Regions from separate parts of the Homo sapiens genome. Here region 1 is linked to region 2. A link means that fine-mapping ties the variant in region 2 to the expression of a gene that starts in the linked region. Tissue or cell type: testis. Region 2 holds a variant in brackets; the other region holds the start of a gene. All regions are shown on one strand. Distances are between the middles of the regions.

Evidence for each region. PIP is the estimated chance that this variant, and not a neighbour inherited with it, causes the effect.
Region 1: it holds the start of SUSD2, and the variant in region 2 is fine-mapped to the expression of SUSD2 in testis (GTEx, PIP 0.99).

Annotation. Positions count from the first base shown.
Region 1 is chr22:24,177,766-24,185,840 of GRCh38, forward strand. SUSD2 (sushi domain containing 2) reads left to right here and starts at 3,722. Exons shown (of 15, transcript NM_019601.4): 1 at 3,722-3,830; 2 at 5,292-5,502; 3 at 5,730-5,881; 4 at 6,371-6,538; 5 at 7,001-7,175; 6 at 7,329-7,530; 7 at 7,721-7,806; 8 at 7,896-8,075. The coding sequence starts at 3,755. CABIN1 (calcineurin binding protein 1) reads left to right here. Exons shown (of 37, transcript NM_012295.4): 36 at 1-52; 37 at 288-863. The coding sequence ends at 431. RefSeq lists enhancers at 5,692-5,771, 5,842-5,951.
Region 2 is chr22:24,226,459-24,234,533 of GRCh38, forward strand. It overlaps GGT5 (gamma-glutamyltransferase 5), which reads right to left. Exons shown (of 12, transcript NM_004121.5): 2 at 7,416-7,546; 3 at 7,040-7,135; 4 at 6,365-6,560; 5 at 5,593-5,750; 6 at 4,926-5,072; 7 at 173-309. Among named protein-coding and RNA genes, the nearest start is that of GGT5, 15 kb to the right of the region's middle. The variant T/C (reference allele first, on the strand shown) is at 4,332.

The sequences.
Region 1 (8,075 bases), 49 kb before region 2:
CCTGCTCTCCCCCAAAGGCAGCATCTCGGAGGAGACCAAGCAGAAGCTGAAGGTGACCTCAGGGGCTGGGCTGGAGCCATGTGTGGGTGGGAGGCATAGGTTACAAAGGGGGCCTAGGATGGGGGTGGGGGTGGCAGGAGGGCCTGGGGTGTGGGTGAGGATGGCATAGGGGCCTGGGGCAGGGGTGAGGGTGGGAGGGGGGCCTGGGGCAGGGGTGAAGGTGGCAGAGGGGCTTGGGGCAGAGCCCAGCCATCCTTGACCAGTGCCCCGCCCGGCCCTCTCCGCAGTCAGCCATCCTTTCTGCCCAGTCTGCTGCCAACGTGAGGAAGGAGAGCCTATGCCAGCCAGCCCTGGAGGTCCTGGAGACATCCAGCCAGGAGTCCTCGCTGGAGAGCGAGACAGACGAGGACGACGACTACATGGACATTTGAGGGGCCACTGCAGCCCCACCGCCACGCCCCAGGGGACCAGCCAGGCCTGGAATGCCCCCTGGGCAGGACCCTGGGCAGGACCAGAGGCCCACATGGATGCCACTCCCCACACAGCCCCCAGGCCTGCCCAGCCCACCTCCTCATGGCATCCTCCCTGTACCCAGGTCAGGCTGTCCACACCACATGGGAGCCCAGAGGAGGAGGGGCCCGCCTTAGCCATGTGAAGGTGGATTGGTCGCCATCTGCACGCCAGGCGGCATCCTTTTCTATGAAGTGTTGACTTTGTAAATCTGCCCACACCCAGCTGGCCATATCCACCCCTCGACGCCGGGATGAGCCGGCTCTGCCTGTGTCACAGTGGAGGGGTCCTTTAGGGCCAGGCTCACCCCTCACCCTTTTTTTGGTTGCTTTTCTAATAAAGATGGAACAGTTGTCTTTGCCTCTTTGCTCACCTCTAGGGGGCAATCTGGCAGAGTCTCTGGCGGAGAGTTGCTGTCCCCAGGGATTCTGGGCCTTTACTGCCATAGTCCATAGGGCAGGGCCTAGCCCCCCTCCTTCTCCAGCATCTCAGGGACCAGCCAGGCAACCAAAGCAGCGGCTGGGGGTGCCCAGTGGGGTAAGGAGAGAGCCGACTCGGGGCTGGGCCAGGCAGACGCCTCTAGTGCAGCTGGAGCCAGGCTTCAAAGGGGAGTTAGGTGCATCCCCAGAACGCACCTGGGTGCCAGTGGGTGGGAGGCTGTACGGTGGGAGGGCAGGCAGGGCTGGGGCAGCTGAGAGGCTGGGAGGAGGGGGCTGTCAGGGAGGGAAAGGGGGGATGGGGCCGGCAGGGAGGGTACTTAACTCCCATCACAGTCGCCCTAATGGGGCCAGTCACAGAATAGCTGGGCTCAGTGCAAGACATAAATATGAAGCTCCTTGATCAAAAAGGATTAAGGATTTTTTTTTTTTTTTTTTTTTTTTTTTGATATGGAGTCTCACTCTGTCTCCCAGGCTGGAATGCAGTGGCACGATCTGCAGTGGCACGATCTCAGCTCACTGCAACCCCCGCCTTCTGGATTCAAGCGATTCTCTTGCCTCAGCCTCCCGAGTAGCTGAGATCACAGGCACACGCCAACACGCCCAGCTAATTTTTGTATTTTTAGTATAGACGGAGTTTCACCATGTTGGCCAGGCTGGTTTCAAACTCCTGACCTCAAGTGATCCACCCACCTTGGCCTCCCAAAGTGCTGGGATTACAGGCCTGAGCCACCACCATGTCTGACCAAAAATGATTAAGGATTTTAAGGCAGGCCCCACAGAGCATTAAGCCCCTAGAGCTGGCACCCTTCACAACTCTCTTCCCCTCCCAGCACCGCAGGGGCCCTCCTGGCCCTGGGACCTCCCATGGAGCAGGCTCTCTGTCCAGGATGGAGATGGGGACCCTCCTCACTGCCCTGTGCCCCTCATGGGCTGGACATGCCCACCACCCAGGAGGAAAGGCGTAAAGGGCTGGGCACCGCCCTTTTGGAACCAGAGGCTTGGTGGCCCCAGATGGGTCTGGCTGAACCCGCCTTTCGGGGGGCTGAGATAAGCCAGCCCCAGTTACTCAGCTGACGCCCCCTCCCTGCAGGGCCTGGGGTATGGAGCTTCCCAGACTGCACACCTAGCCCCTACCGCACTTCCATTGTCTCCAGACACGCGCAGCAACGGTGCCCAGGCCAAAAACAGGAAGCAGCAGCTCTCCCTCCTCCAGTTCCCGGGAACTGTCTCAGCCGATCCCCCAGCACCCCTCCCTGGAGCCTCACCTATAGGAGGACGGACACCTCGGACCCTCCCCTGCACCCAGTGCTGTAGGGAGCAACTTCAGCCCTGGGCCTGGGATGAATGCCCTCGCCAGCCTGGGGCCAGGAGACAGGCTCTCCCTGGCTCAGCACCTGAGCGTCCACTTACAGGACACTCACCTGCAGAGGTGCCCTGAGCGCCATTGTGGGTTAAGGGACTTTCTCCCCTCTGGAGACAGTCCCTGAGAAGCTGAAGGTCTTGGGGGCCTCTCACCAAATGTCTTTGGGAGGTGGGAAAACATCAAATGCGGGTGTGGCTTCCCTGGAACAGCTCTGTGTGGGGACTCAGGAGCCAAGTCCCCCAGCACACGCCTCTAACACTTTCAGTAGGGGCCACCTCTCTGGAGCCACGGGTGGCTGCCAACACCCTGTGGTTCCCAGCAGGCACCACCCAGGCAAGAGAGAGAACAGGCCGGGGAACAATGGGCTGGCCTGGCCGCAAGCGCTGGGGCAGATCACAGACCGGATGGCCTAAGCTCATGCCCTGGGGCCACCTCTGACTCCCTGCAAGTGTGGCAAGGGTCCCTTTTGGACACCTTGAGAAGCTGCAGCTGGGAGAGGACCACCCGCCTGTCTGGATGTCCAGCCCAGGTGTCAGGGTCCAAATGACCAGTCCCAGGCCGCAGCCCTTACCACCCGCCCTGGCTGCAGGGGCTCCCAGAAGCCACCAAGGGCCTGGCTCGGCCTTGCCTATCCGCATCTGAGCTTCAGTTTCCTCATCTGCTCAAGAAGGGAGGTGAATACTGATTAAATTATGCAAACTCTTAGCGGCAGGATTAGGTGTGGCTGGGACAGCCAAGGCTCCCCAGGGTGGTGGCATCTCTGGAGCCCGGGGATGGGCCCTGTCTCCCTTCCGGGCCCCCCGCTGGGCTTGGGTACCTTCTCTCCCCTTCCTCCTTCCTCCCTCCAGAGGGGACCCCTGCAGAGCTGCCTCCGCCCCAGGGCTCAGCCTGTGTCTGACCCAAACAGCTCCTGCCTCCCCCTGAGGATGAGTTGGGTGCACCTCCTTCCTGCAGGAAGATGAGGGCTAGAGATGGAGGTCTATGTCAGGGCCACAGAGTCTGGAATCCTCCCTGGAGCTAAAACAGCCCTGCCTTATTCACCCTGCGCATCCCATCCTCTGCTTCAGCCCCGCCGGGCTCGCCCTGCATGCAAGGCGGGGCTGGGACCCAGGGTCTGAGCTTCGCCCTCTGGACATCCGGCTCATCGCCTGCCAAAGGTCCTGTGGCTGGAGGCTCCGGCCTCCTCACCCTCCCACAGGGTCCCAGGGCCGATCCAGGCCTGCGGGCCAGGAATGTGCTAACGGGGCAACTTGGGCCTTGCTGGTCCACGCAGGCACCTGTGGACTTTGAGAGGGGACTGGGTGGGGAGGGGCGGGGAGGGGCGGGGCGGGGCGGTGCCGCAGAGTGCAGGGCGGGCGGGGCCAGGCCAGCAGGGAGTGAGCTTGTCTGGCCGCCTCGCCTCGGAGCCACTGCACTGCTGGCTGCAGACACAGGCTGCACCATGAAGCCAGCCCTCCTGCCCTGGGCCCTGCTGCTGCTGGCGACAGCCCTCGGCCCGGGCCCCGGACCCACAGCAGGTATGCCTCCCTGCCCTTCTGTGTCCCCGTCTGTCTGTCCATCTGTCTGCAGCCAGGCCTGGGCTGACATCCCTCTGGGCTCAGCCTCTGTCCATCTGTCAGGCCATCTGTGGCTGTGCTAGGGGTGATGGGAAGAAATTCTGAGGGTCCATGTGGAGGGGCAGCCCATGGGGATGGGAGGTCTGAGCCGGGCCCACCCTAAACCTGCTGGTAGCTAGGAGGGAGGCGGGGGAGACCAGCAGAGGCCTCCGCCTGTGTCCCCAGCCCTGACAGGGCGGGATCACGGAGGGGGAGCCAGGATTGTGGGTCCTCATCAGGGTGGGGCTGAATCCAGGAAAGTCTAGGGAAAGCCCCGAACTCCAGAACCAGGACACTGGTCCCAGGCTGCCCCCCGTCCCCCACCCCATTTCCCATCGACCCTCTTGCCACTTATCTCACTTGCAAGCATCTCTCGGCCTCCTCCCCCGACCCCTGTGCGCCACCAAATCCTTGGCCAGTACATATTTATTGTTGCTTTTAAGTGCCAGGCACTGCACTTGGTGAAGTGGGGCCAGCGGGGTGGCTCAGGCCCAGGCCTGGCCCTCGACTGGCCTCTTTTGATGGGGGATGGGGAAGGGCCAGGGAAGTGCAATTCCAGCCTGGGTGCATGCACCTGCCCCAGTCCCTCCCTGCAACCCTTCCTTCATGCCAGCCCCTGGAAATATGGCCTTGCCCACCGGTCTTATGGCCCATAGGAGAAGTTTTGGGCCCGGCGCCCACAGCCCCTTGTGGTGTGCACCCCCACTTCCCTTTCCCCACTGCTGGGACCCCTGCTTGAAATGTCCCTCCTCTCCCCAGAAAGGAGGGGAGCGGCCCTGGCCTTCTGCCCTGAGCACGGAGCTCTCTTTGGGGTCTCAATTGCAGCCCCTGGGAGAGCGAGAAGTGTCACGTTCAGACCCTGCACCATTCCCTACCAGGCCTCAAATGAGACTCTTGGCAGCCATATCCCCCACCCCAGTCCAGGCAAGCAAGAGGGGTTCTTCTGCAGGCTTCAGGGCCCCCAGAAGGCGTGCTGACCACAGACACCCTGGGGAGCCAAGAGAGGTCGAGGGCTCCAGCTACCGTGGCCCACTGAGGACCCCTGCCTGTGGGATAGAGGACTTGGTGGCTGAAGGGCAGTCATGCCCAGGGGCTTCTCCTGACCCTGCAGGGCTGAGCGGATGCAGCTTTTTGCCTCTTCTCGCTGCATTCTAGCCCGTCAGTCAGGGCAACAGCCAGATGGTCTGTGCTAAGATTCATCCCATCCCCACGGGCCCTGTGGCTTTCTACTGTGTCCACCTGGTGGCCTGTGCAGTTCCTGGCCAGCGTTCTCCTGGGGATGCTGCTGTCTAATGGGCTGTGGGAGAAACAGAGACAGGCCCTGCACATGGGGCAGCCAGTCCAGTACCCGCCGGGCCAGGCCCTCAGCATCCTCTCCTCCAGATGCCCAAGAGAGCTGCTCCATGCGCTGTGGCGCCCTGGACGGGCCATGTTCCTGCCACCCGACGTGCTCTGGCCTTGGCACCTGCTGCTTGGATTTCCGGGACTTCTGCCTGGAGATATTGCCCTACTCAGGATCCATGATGGGCGGCAAGGACTTTGTGGTGCGGCACTTCAAGATGTCCAGCCCCACAGACGCCAGTGTGATCTGCAGGTTGGGAGGCCCAGGAGGCCGGGCACTGGGGCCCCACGCCCCCATCCCTGTGCATGCTGAGGGCTCAGACCCACTGACTGGCTGAGTGGAGCCCCTCGGACCCAGGACAGGCAGGAGGGCACAGGGACAGCTGGCTGGTTGGGTTCCCCAGGGAGGTTGGGGGCCCAGACCATCGAGAGGCTCAGCCTGCAATGACCCAGCCCCTCCCACCACCACCACGCCCACAGGTTTAAGGACAGCATCCAGACCCTCGGCCATGTGGACTCCTCCGGGCAAGTGCACTGTGTGTCACCTCTGCTCTATGAGAGCGGCCGCATCCCCTTCACTGTGTCACTGGACAACGGCCACTCCTTCCCTCGTGCGGGCACCTGGCTGGCTGGTGAGCCCTCCTCCCTGCCCACAGCCTGCCCCCACGGGGACTTTCCCCAGCGCTAATCTATGCACACCGAGACTTGGCCTGTCCGTGCCCTGCCTCTCTGGCTGAACCAGTCCCTTGGGAGGCCTGCCCGCCTGCGAGAGTTCCTTCAGCTCCTTTCCACTCCCTGGCATCCAGACCGCGGTCCCAGCCCAGAGTGAGTGGGAGCTGCAGGGGTCCCTAGAGAGGTGGGCCAGTGCCTATCCACTGAGCTCCGCCATGCCAGGGCAGGGGAGAAGCCAGGTCGAGGCTAGAGGCGTGGGCAGTGGAGGGAGGGCAGGCCCCTGCCTCTGCGGCCTCAGCGTCCTTTTCTGCTGTGCGGGCCAGAGAGACCATCACCCAGCTGCTGCCATGCATTGGCCCTGGAGGCTCCCACAGCCCTTGAAGCCTCAGGGCCTCCTCCCTGCTTCCCTGGGCCCAGGCCCTCACTCACCCCTCACCTCCCCTGCCCAGTGCACCCCAACAAAGTGTCAATGATGGAGAAGAGCGAGTTGGTGAACGAGACGCGTTGGCAATACTACGGCACCGCCAACACCTCAGGCAACCTCAGCCTGACCTGGCATGTCAAGTCGCTGCCCACGCAGACCATCACCATCGAACTGTGGGGCTACGAGGAGACAGGTGAGGCCAGCTGAGGGCTGGGGTGGCATCAGAGCTTTGGGCCCCCAGAGGGGGAGAAAGGGGGTCCCAGCTGTGTGGGAGGAGGAAGGGAGTTTCCAGGTGGGGTTGAGGAGGGAAGGGAATTCCAGGCAGAGATTGAGGATTCGGATGGAGGGAAGTGCAGGTCAGGGGGGTCAGGCAGGTGGGAGGGGGCAGCTCATGGGGCCTGGCTCCAGGGGAGGAGGCTCATGAGGAACCCCTGCACGGCTGGCATGGCCCTGGGCCCAGCTTCCAGCAGGGACAGGGATCCTGGAGTGTGGCAGGAGGTGATGGTCACCCAAGCCGGGGTCCCTGCTAGAACAGCCCCTCCTAAGGGGACCGCCTGGCGGTCCATCCACCCATCTGTCAGGCTGCTGTAGGTGGCAAGGCCTGGGGCCAGGCCTCGAAGGAACCCCAGGGCTAACCAGGCATCCTCTCCCTCAGGAATGCCCTACTCACAGGAGTGGACTGCAAAGTGGTCGTACCTGTACCCCCTGGCCACACACATCCCCAACTCCGGCTCTTTCACTTTCACCCCAAAACCTGCTCCTCCCAGCTACCAGAGATGGCGAGTGGGTGCACTTCGGATCATCGACAGCAAAAATTACGCAGGGCAGAAGTAAGAAGGCATGGATGTGCAGGTGATGGCTGGAGGGCCTCGCCGCCCGAGGCCCATCATGCTTGCCTGGGCAGCCCAGGCTGGGGGTGGGGAGAGTGGGGCGACCATGGGGTGGTGTGGGCTGGCCCAGCTCCAGCATCATCACCTCCACAGGGACGTGCAGGCGCTCTGGACCAACGACCACGCACTGGCCTGGCACCTGAGCGATGACTTCCGAGAGGACCCTGTGGCCTGGGCACGAACTCAGTGCCAGGCCTGGGAGGAGCTGGAGGATCAGCTGCCCAACTTCCTGGAGGAGCTGCCGGACTGCCCCTGCACCCTGACCCAGGCCCGGGCTGACTCCGGCCGCTTCTTCGTGAGCCTCCCATCAGGGCCCAGGAGAGGGGATGAGGGGTTAGCCTCCCCACTGAGGACAGCACCAGGGGAGGCAGACAGAGGTGTCCTGGAGGGTGGGGCTGGGGTCTCAGGACCCCTGCAGGGTTGGCCTCAGGGAGGGGATGACAGAACCCGAGGCCACTGGGTGACAGCCACCTGCTGCTCTGCAGACGGACTACGGCTGTGACATGGAGCAGGGCAGCGTGTGCACCTACCACCCCGGGGCCGTGCACTGTGTGCGTTCTGTGCAGGCCAGGTGAGCCCCCAGGCTGGGGCCGGTATGGGGATTGGGGTCAGGGGTGGGCTCCCAACAGTGGCCTGGCCCTGACTCACTGGCTCCTGCAGCCTCCGGTACGGCTCAGGTCAGCAGTGCTGCTACACAGCGGACGGGACGCAGCTCCTGACAGCTGACTCCAGCGGCGGCAGCACTCCCGACCGCGGCCATGACTGGGGCGCACCCCCGTTCCGCACGCCACCCCGAGTGCCCAGCATGTCCCACTGGCTCTACGATGTCCTCAGCTTCTA
Region 2 (8,075 bases):
TGCACCTGACCCCTGTACCTGCCACCCCGGGATCCCTTTCAGTCCTGCCCTGGCCTAGAACCACATACATATCCCTCCAACTTCCCCCTACCAGGCCTGACCCTCATTTCATGCCAAGTCCTGAGCCAGGGAGGAGGACGGCCCACCAGCCCAGCAACCTCAGCAACCTCACCTGGAGCTTCGGGTGGCTTCGAGGGTCCCCCAGCCTCCACCTCTGCCCCTTGGCAAACTTGAGCGTCTCTACAAGGTGGTGGTACACGTTCACCCTCCCTTCAGGCCTGGCCATAGACTCTGTTGAGAAGTTGAACCCTGGAGAGAGGTTGGGGCACAGGTTGGTTGGGGTCACCCTATGTAATGGGTTGAATGTTGCCCCCACCCCCCACCACAGAAAGATCCACCCACATCCTAATTCCCAAAACCTGTGGATATTACCTTATACAGCACAAGAGTGACTAATACCTTAAGTGGAAAAGTAAGTTAAGGATTTTTTTTTTTTTTTTTTTTTTTTTAGACAGAGTCTCACTCTATTGCCCAGGCTGGAGTGCAATGGCGCAGTCTCAGCTCACTGCAATCTCTGCCTCCTGGGTTCAAGTGATTCTTGGTCCTTAGTCTCCTGAGTAGCTGAGACTACATGTGTTCGCCACCACGTACAGCTAATTATTTTTGTATTTTTAGTAGACAGGATTTCGCCATGTTGTTCAGGCTGGTATTGAACTCCTGGCCTCAAGTGATCTGCCTGCCTTGGCCTCCCAAAGTGCTAGGATTACAGGCGTAAGCCATCATGCCCCGCCTTTTTTGTGTTTTTTGGAGAGGAAGTCTTGTTCTGTCACCCAGGCTGGAGTGTGTGGCACGATCTCAGCTTACTGCAATCTCCACCTCCTGGGTTGAAGTGATTCTCCCGCCTCAGCCTCCCAAGTAGCTAGGACTTCAGGCACAGGCCATCATGCCCGGCTAATTTTTGTATTTTTAGTAGAGATGGTGTTTTACTGTGTTGGCCAGGCTGGTCTCCAACTCCTGACCTCAAGTGATCCACCCTCCTTAGCCTCCCAAAGTGCTGGGATTACAGGCATGAGCCACCACACCCGGCCTAAAGTACGTTAAAGATTTTGAGAGGAGGAGATGATCCTGGATTATCTAGATGTGCCCTGAATGTGACCACAGTGTCCTTGTAAGACAGACACATAGAGGAGAGGACACACAGCAGAGGAGAAACCAGTATGATCATGGAGACAGAGACTGGAGTGAGGCAGCCACAAGCCAAGGAATGCTGGCAGCCACCGGAAGTGGGAAGAGGCTGTGAAAATTTTCAAAATAGAGCGGCAGCCAGCCACAGTGGCTCACACCTGTAGTCCCAGCACTTTGGGAGGCCGAGGCTGAGGTCAGGAGTTCAAGACCAGCCTGACTAACATGGTGAAACCCCATCTCTACAAAAATACAAAAATTATCCAGGCATGATGGTGGGTGCCTGTAACCCCAGCTACTAGGGAGGCTGAGGAGGGAGAATTGCTTGAACCCGGGAGGAGGAGGTTGCAGTGAGGCAGGATTGCACCACTGCACTCCAGCCTAGTAAACAGAGCAAGACTCTGTCTCAAAAAAAAAAAAAAAAAACAAAACAAAAAAAAAAAAACTCTGAAAAATAGAGCCAGGGAAAGGCCATGAAGACAGGACTCTCGTGCACAAGTGCCCCGTTCTCGGCTGGGTGCAGTGGCTCATGCCTGTAATCCCAAAACTTTGGGAGGCTGAGGTGAGAGGATTGCTTGAGTCCAGGAGGTTGAGGCTGCAGTGAGCCTTGACAGTGCCACTGCACTCCAGCCCAGGTGACAGAGCAAGACCCTGCCTCAAAAACACAACAGCTCACAACCTTACAAGAAGGCCATCACAATCTTACACAAAAAATACTTCTGCAAAGACATCTGCCCATGAGTGGCCTGTCCAGTGCCACCCTTATCACTTTTCCATGCATCCTACTAGCCAAGGATGATCATTTCAAAACAGTTTTTTTTTTTTTTTGAGACAGAGTCTCACTCTGTTGCCCAGGCTGGAGTGCAGTGGTGTGATCTCAGCTCACTGCAAGCTCTGTCTCCTGGGTTCACACCATTCTCCTGCCTCAGCCTCCCAAGCAACTGGGACTACAGGTGCCCGCCACCACGCCTGGCTAATTTTTTGTATTTTTAGTAGAGACAGGGTTTCACTGTGTTAGGCAGGATGGTCTCGATCTCCTGAACTCATGATCCGCCTGCCTTGGCCTCCCAAAGTGCTGGGATTACAGGCGTGAGCCACCATGCCAGGCCCGAAACAGTTATATACCAAAGCTAAGCTATGAGGACGCAAAGGAATAAAAATGATATAATGGGCCAGGCATGGTGGCTTATGCCTATAATCCCAACACTTTGGGAGGCCGAGGCAGGTGGATCACCTGAGGTCAGGAGTTCAAGAGCAGTCTGGCCAACATGATGAAACCCTGTCTCTAATAATACAAAAATTAGCCGGGCATGGTAGCACACATGGGTAGTCCTAGCTACTCGGGAGGCTGAGGCAGGAGAATCGCTTGAACCGGGAGGCAGAGGTTGCAGTGAGCTGAGATCGCGCAATTGCACTCCACTCCAGCCTGGGTGACAAGAGCAAAACTCCATCTCCAGAAAAAAGAAGGAATGATATAATGGGGCCCAGCATGGTGGCTCACACCTGTAATCCCAGCAATTTGGGAGGCCAAGGCAGGCAGATCACCTGAGGTCAGGAGTTCAAGAGCAGCCTGGTCAACACGGTGAAACCCCATCTTTACTAATAATACAAAAAAAAAAAATTAGTTGTGGTGGCAGGCGCCTGTAATCCCAGCTACGTGGGAGGCTGAGGCAGGAAAATCGCTTGAACCCAGGAGGCAGAGTTTGTAGTGAACCGAGACGCACCATTGCACTCCAGCCTTGGCGACAGAGCGAGACTCTGTCTCAGAGGAAAAGAAAAATGCTCTAATGGACTCTGGGAACTCAAGGGGAAGGGTGGGAGGGGAATGAGGGATAAAAGACTACACACTAGGAACAGTGTACACTGCTTGTGTGATGGGTGCATCAAGATCTCAGAAATCACCACTAAAGACCAGATGCGGTGGCTCATGCCTGTAATTCCAGCACTTTGGGAGGCTGAGGCAGGCAGATCACTTGAAGTCAGGAGTTTAAGACCAGCCTGGCCAACATGGTGAAACCCCATCTCTACTAAAAAAATAAAATAAATAAATAAATTAATTAATTAACCAGGCTTGGTAGCGTGCACCTGTAATCCCAGCTACTCAGGAGGCTGAGACTGGAGAATTGCTTGAACCTCAGAGGCAGAGGTTGCAGTGAGCTAAGATCATGCCACTGCTCTCCAGCCTGGGCCACAGAGTGAGATTCCATCTCAAAAAAAAAAAGAAAAAAAAAAGAAATCACCACTAAATAACTTTTCCATGCAACCGAACACCACTTGTTCCCCAAAAACTAATGAAATAAAAATAAAATAGCCAGGCAGAGGTGGCTCACGCCTGGAATCCCAGCACTTTGGGAGGCTGAGGCAAGTGGGTCAGTTAAGGTCAAGAGTTCAAGACCAGCCCGGCCAACATGGTAAAACCCCGTCTCTACTAAAAAGATAAAAATCATCTGGGCGCGGTGGCTCATGCCTGTAATCCCAGCACTTTGGGATGCCGAGGTGGGCGGATCACCTGACATCAGAAGTTCAAGACCAGCCTGACCAACGTGGCAAAACCCCATCTCTACCAAAAATACAAAAATTAACTCGGTGTCGTGGCAAGCGCCTGTAATCCCAGCTACTTGGGAGACTGAGGCAGGAGAATTGCTTGTACCTGGGAGGCAGAGGTTGCAGTGAGCTGAGATCGTGCCATTGCACTCTAGCCTGGGTGACAGATTGAGACTCTGTCTAAAAAGAAAAAAAAAAAAAAGGAAAAAAAGAAAAGATAAAAATCAGCGGCGTGTGGTGGCCCATGCCTGTAATCCCAGCTACTTGGGAGGCTGAGTCAGGAGAATCACTTGAACCCAGGAAGCAGAGTTTGCAATGAACCGAGATTGTGCCACTGTGCTCTACCCTAGGCGACAGAGCAAGACACCGTCTCAATAATTAATAATAATAATAATAATAATGCAATGAAAAAAATAAAATGTACAATAAATTATCATTGATTGTAAACAAAAAAGTTATATAATCTTCCTCATTTTCTCTTTGAAAACTTTTGTCTTCCTTCACCTCCCTGAATACACACATAGTTTACCCTAGCATGGGTATTCCTACCGCGATGCCTACTCTGGAACAAACATCATTTTCTTTGAGAGCCTTGTTCTGTTTTT[T/C]ATTTAGGTCAACAAGGCAAAGAACAGATTCTCCCCTGGAGCCCCCAATGGAATGCAGCCCTGTGGACACCTAGATATCGGGCTTCTGGCTTCCAGAACTGTGAGAGGACACATTTCTGTTATTTTAAGCCACCAAGCTTGTGGTGATTTGTAATGGCAGACACAGGACACTAATATTAAGCCAGCGCAGGCAGCCCCAGGCCTCAGCACTGCCAGAACCCCCCTGCAGGCTGCCTTGGGCTAGGCTGGCTTCGCTCCCCCAGGTGCACGCCCCTGACAGGCAGCTCACCACCCACACAGCCCACCTGCTTCTGTGTCTGGGACTGGTCACCCAGTGGGAGGAGGACTCTGGACGAATGATATCACGCCCTTCAGCAAAGCCTCACGTATGGGTCGAGCTGGAGGCCAGCTCTAAAACCCACCATCCTGATTGGTTTCCACAGCTCTGTCTTCATATTGTGCATCTGTGAACCCGGTTTATGGAGGAGGAGGCTGAGCTGGGCCTTGGCTGGGCTTGGGCTTGGAGTCTGAGTTCCCGGGGGCCGGGGGTGCGGGGGAGGGGGTGGGCGCCAGGGCTCTGGGCAGGGGCTTTACCTCTTAGCACGTTGAGGATAAAGCTGAGAATGGCACCCCCTGCAGGCGGCGGTGGTGAGTACAGGGTATAGTCCCCCAGGGGCACCTCCAGGGCATCCACCACCTCGGGCTGGAACTTGGCCAGGTCCTGCAGCGTCAGCTGGCTCCCTGGGATGAGAAGGAGAGGGCTCCATGAACAGATGGGAAACTGAGGCGGGGAGGAATAGCCACTGCTGTCAGGTCACACAATGGGATTCCACTCATGCTTTTGCCTTGTGGACACAGGATGATGGTAGGTCTGTAGGCAGTGGCCTCAGGACTGGCCCCTTGGGGCCAGGCGTGGAGGGGTGGACAGAGACCAGAGGCAGGGAGGCTGGGGAAAAGAAAGGGAAGATGGGAGAGGGAGCTGGCTTATGAGAGCCTGTGAGAATGGTCAGCTCGGCTACCCAGACCTGCCGTGACCATCGGTAACGCCCCTCTGCTGGCCCTAACCCGCAGGCTCTGCTCTCTGAGGTCCTGGACCACAGGGGTCCTTGGGCCGGCAGAGCTAGGTGCATGGCCTCTCGGGGTCCCGGGCACTGCCTGCACTCCCTCAGGGCCTGGGAAGGAGCCTGCCCTCAACCCCCAGTGCCCAGAACTTGGCTCTTCCTCCAGCAGGGATGGGGTATGGAACCTCAGGGAGGCTGACCTTCCTTGGCAATGTCCTCCACCAGCATCTGGCCCAGCCTCCCCGTGTAGAAGACCTCCACGCCCTCTGTGGCCACGGTCTCCAGGGTGGTGGCCAGTGCAGGCCATGGGAGTGGGTCCTGAGGCCTCAGGGGTTCTGTCCCGTTGAAGAAGAGCTGGCTGGGGGGTGGGGGGAGCCTCAGGGTGGGGCCAGGTCCCAGAGGCAGCCACACTCTTCCGGGGCTCTCATGGGTGGAGTCCTCAGGACCCTACAGTGGGGGGCGCCCTGGCCCAGGGTCCCGAGGCACTGGGGTGGACACCGGGGAACTGATTCTCTAGGAGGTGGTGGGACTGACACCACTCACCCAGCTCATGGCCCTGGTCCAGGGAAGGCAAATTTCCCAGTGGGGCCTGGGTCCACCTAGGGCCTGTCATCTCACTCCTGGGAGGGCCTGTCAGTGGGCTGGGTGGGGCAGGTGAGAGTGGCAGTTGAAGCCCTCCTGCCATGCCAGAGAGAGGAAGAAGGAGGCCGGGGCCCCAGGGCGGGTGGCAGAGCCCAAATCCACACCTTGGAGTCCTATCACTTGGGCAATAAACTCCCCGCAGCCTAACCCCAAGTTAGGCTCTGCCACGGGGAGCTGGAAGGGCCATGAAAAGTACTCTTTGTCCTGGCCAGCACCCCGAGGGTCAATCCTCCAGTGTAAGAGGGACTGAGGCAGAGCTGGGGTGTGGACTGGGCCCAGACAGGATATGGCCTTGAACCCAGGAACCCAGGGCCACCATGTGGGGCTCACCGCAGGGTTGACGCCTGCAAGGAAGGCCGCAGGATGCTGTTGTGCAGGAAACGGCTGAGGACAGGGGCCACCACATGCCCCCCTCGGAGCAGCGCGATGGTGGGCTGGAACAGCTGCGCCCAGGGCAGGCGGCCATGGCGGCGGTGGGCCTCGGCATAGCCACGGAGCTCCCCGGGCACCCCGATCCACTGGGCCCCTGCATGGCACATCCCAGCTCTCAACCCTGTGGCTTCCAGGCCTTCCCAGGTTTGCCATCACCCCTACATGTGGCCCCCCAGTTACAGCAGCCAGAGTGAGCTTTCTGGAGCCCACACCCGACCACGTCCCTCCCTGCTCAAATCACCTGTGGCTCCCCACAAAGTCCATGGCCAAGCCCAAGGGGCCCTACACAAACTGGCCCCAGGAGCCCCACCCTGCCCCGCCAACCCATCTCCACTGAACCCTCCAGGCCTTTGTCCAGCCTGGTCCCTCTCCCTGGATCACCTCAGAGAGCCCGTTCCCAAGGGGGACCTTCTCAATCCCTGCAGGTTGGGGCTGGGGGTTCCCCACAGGCTCCGTGTCCCCCCGTGCCAGGGAGTCACAGCCTGTCCGTGAGGCGCTGCTCCTTTGCGGGGGTGTTCTGATTAGTCCTAGTGGCCTGGGGGGTGGGAGTGGGGGACCTCCATGGGGCGTCACCTGTGCCCAGTGGCAGAGCCTGTGCACACTGGTCCAGCAGGCTCGGGGCGTGGCTGGCCGGCACCGTCTCCCGGGCATTGATGACCTCCACCTTCCCTGGAGTAGGGCAGGGCAGGTGAGTGGTCATGGACCCTGCAGACAGCCCCTGGCCTGCTCTAGGCCTCAGTTTCCATCTCTGCATTATGAGATGGACTCTGGGCTAACACAGGGACAGGAGTTGACACAAGGGCTTTGCACAGCTGAGGCAAATGGGGCAGGGCAGGGGGCCCAAGAACACCCAGAAACGGGCTTGAGTTGATGGGACTGGCTGGAGAAGGGGTTACGCAGTGGTGTGGACAAGCCCATCTTCCCCATGGCAGTTCACATGTGGGCCCACCTGTTGTCACATTGTAGATGGTGAAGATGACCCCTCCGCCCAGGCCCATGCTCTGAGGGTTGACGACGCTGGTGCAGACCAGAGCCGCGATGGTGGCATCCACGGGTGAGCCCTGCTGCTGGAGGATGGCTCTAGGGGACATGGCACAGAGTCGCTGTGGGGCTCCCCTCCCCCTGCCTCCCCACCAGGCTTGCTCAGCTGGCACTCATTGGAGAATGGTGACGGAGGCGGCACGTCGGCTGCCACCAAACCGCAGATTAGGTTGCAGAACACAACCAGGCTTCCCCATCAAATCCAGCTGCTCACAGGTCCACAACACACTACGGTTGCAAAGTGTGATGCCATTTACACTGACCTTTGCCATATACAAGGTGCTTCTCAGTTTGCAAAGTACTTCTGTTGCCATTGTTCCCAGCAGCACCAGCTCATATGCTACAGGCAGAACGAGGCCTCGGCCACCTCTCAGTCCCTCACAGTGGCCTCAGGAGCCCACCCTGGGACTCCACTCCCCATCTCACTGGGGACACTCTGGCCACAACTACTTCAAGGCTGGCCTTTGGCAGGTGATCCCAGGATCCTTCCCTGCCAGCAGGGCATAGGGCTTGAGCTGATGGACCCCAAAACTTCTCTTGGGACTCTGAGCCTATGGAAATTCTCTGG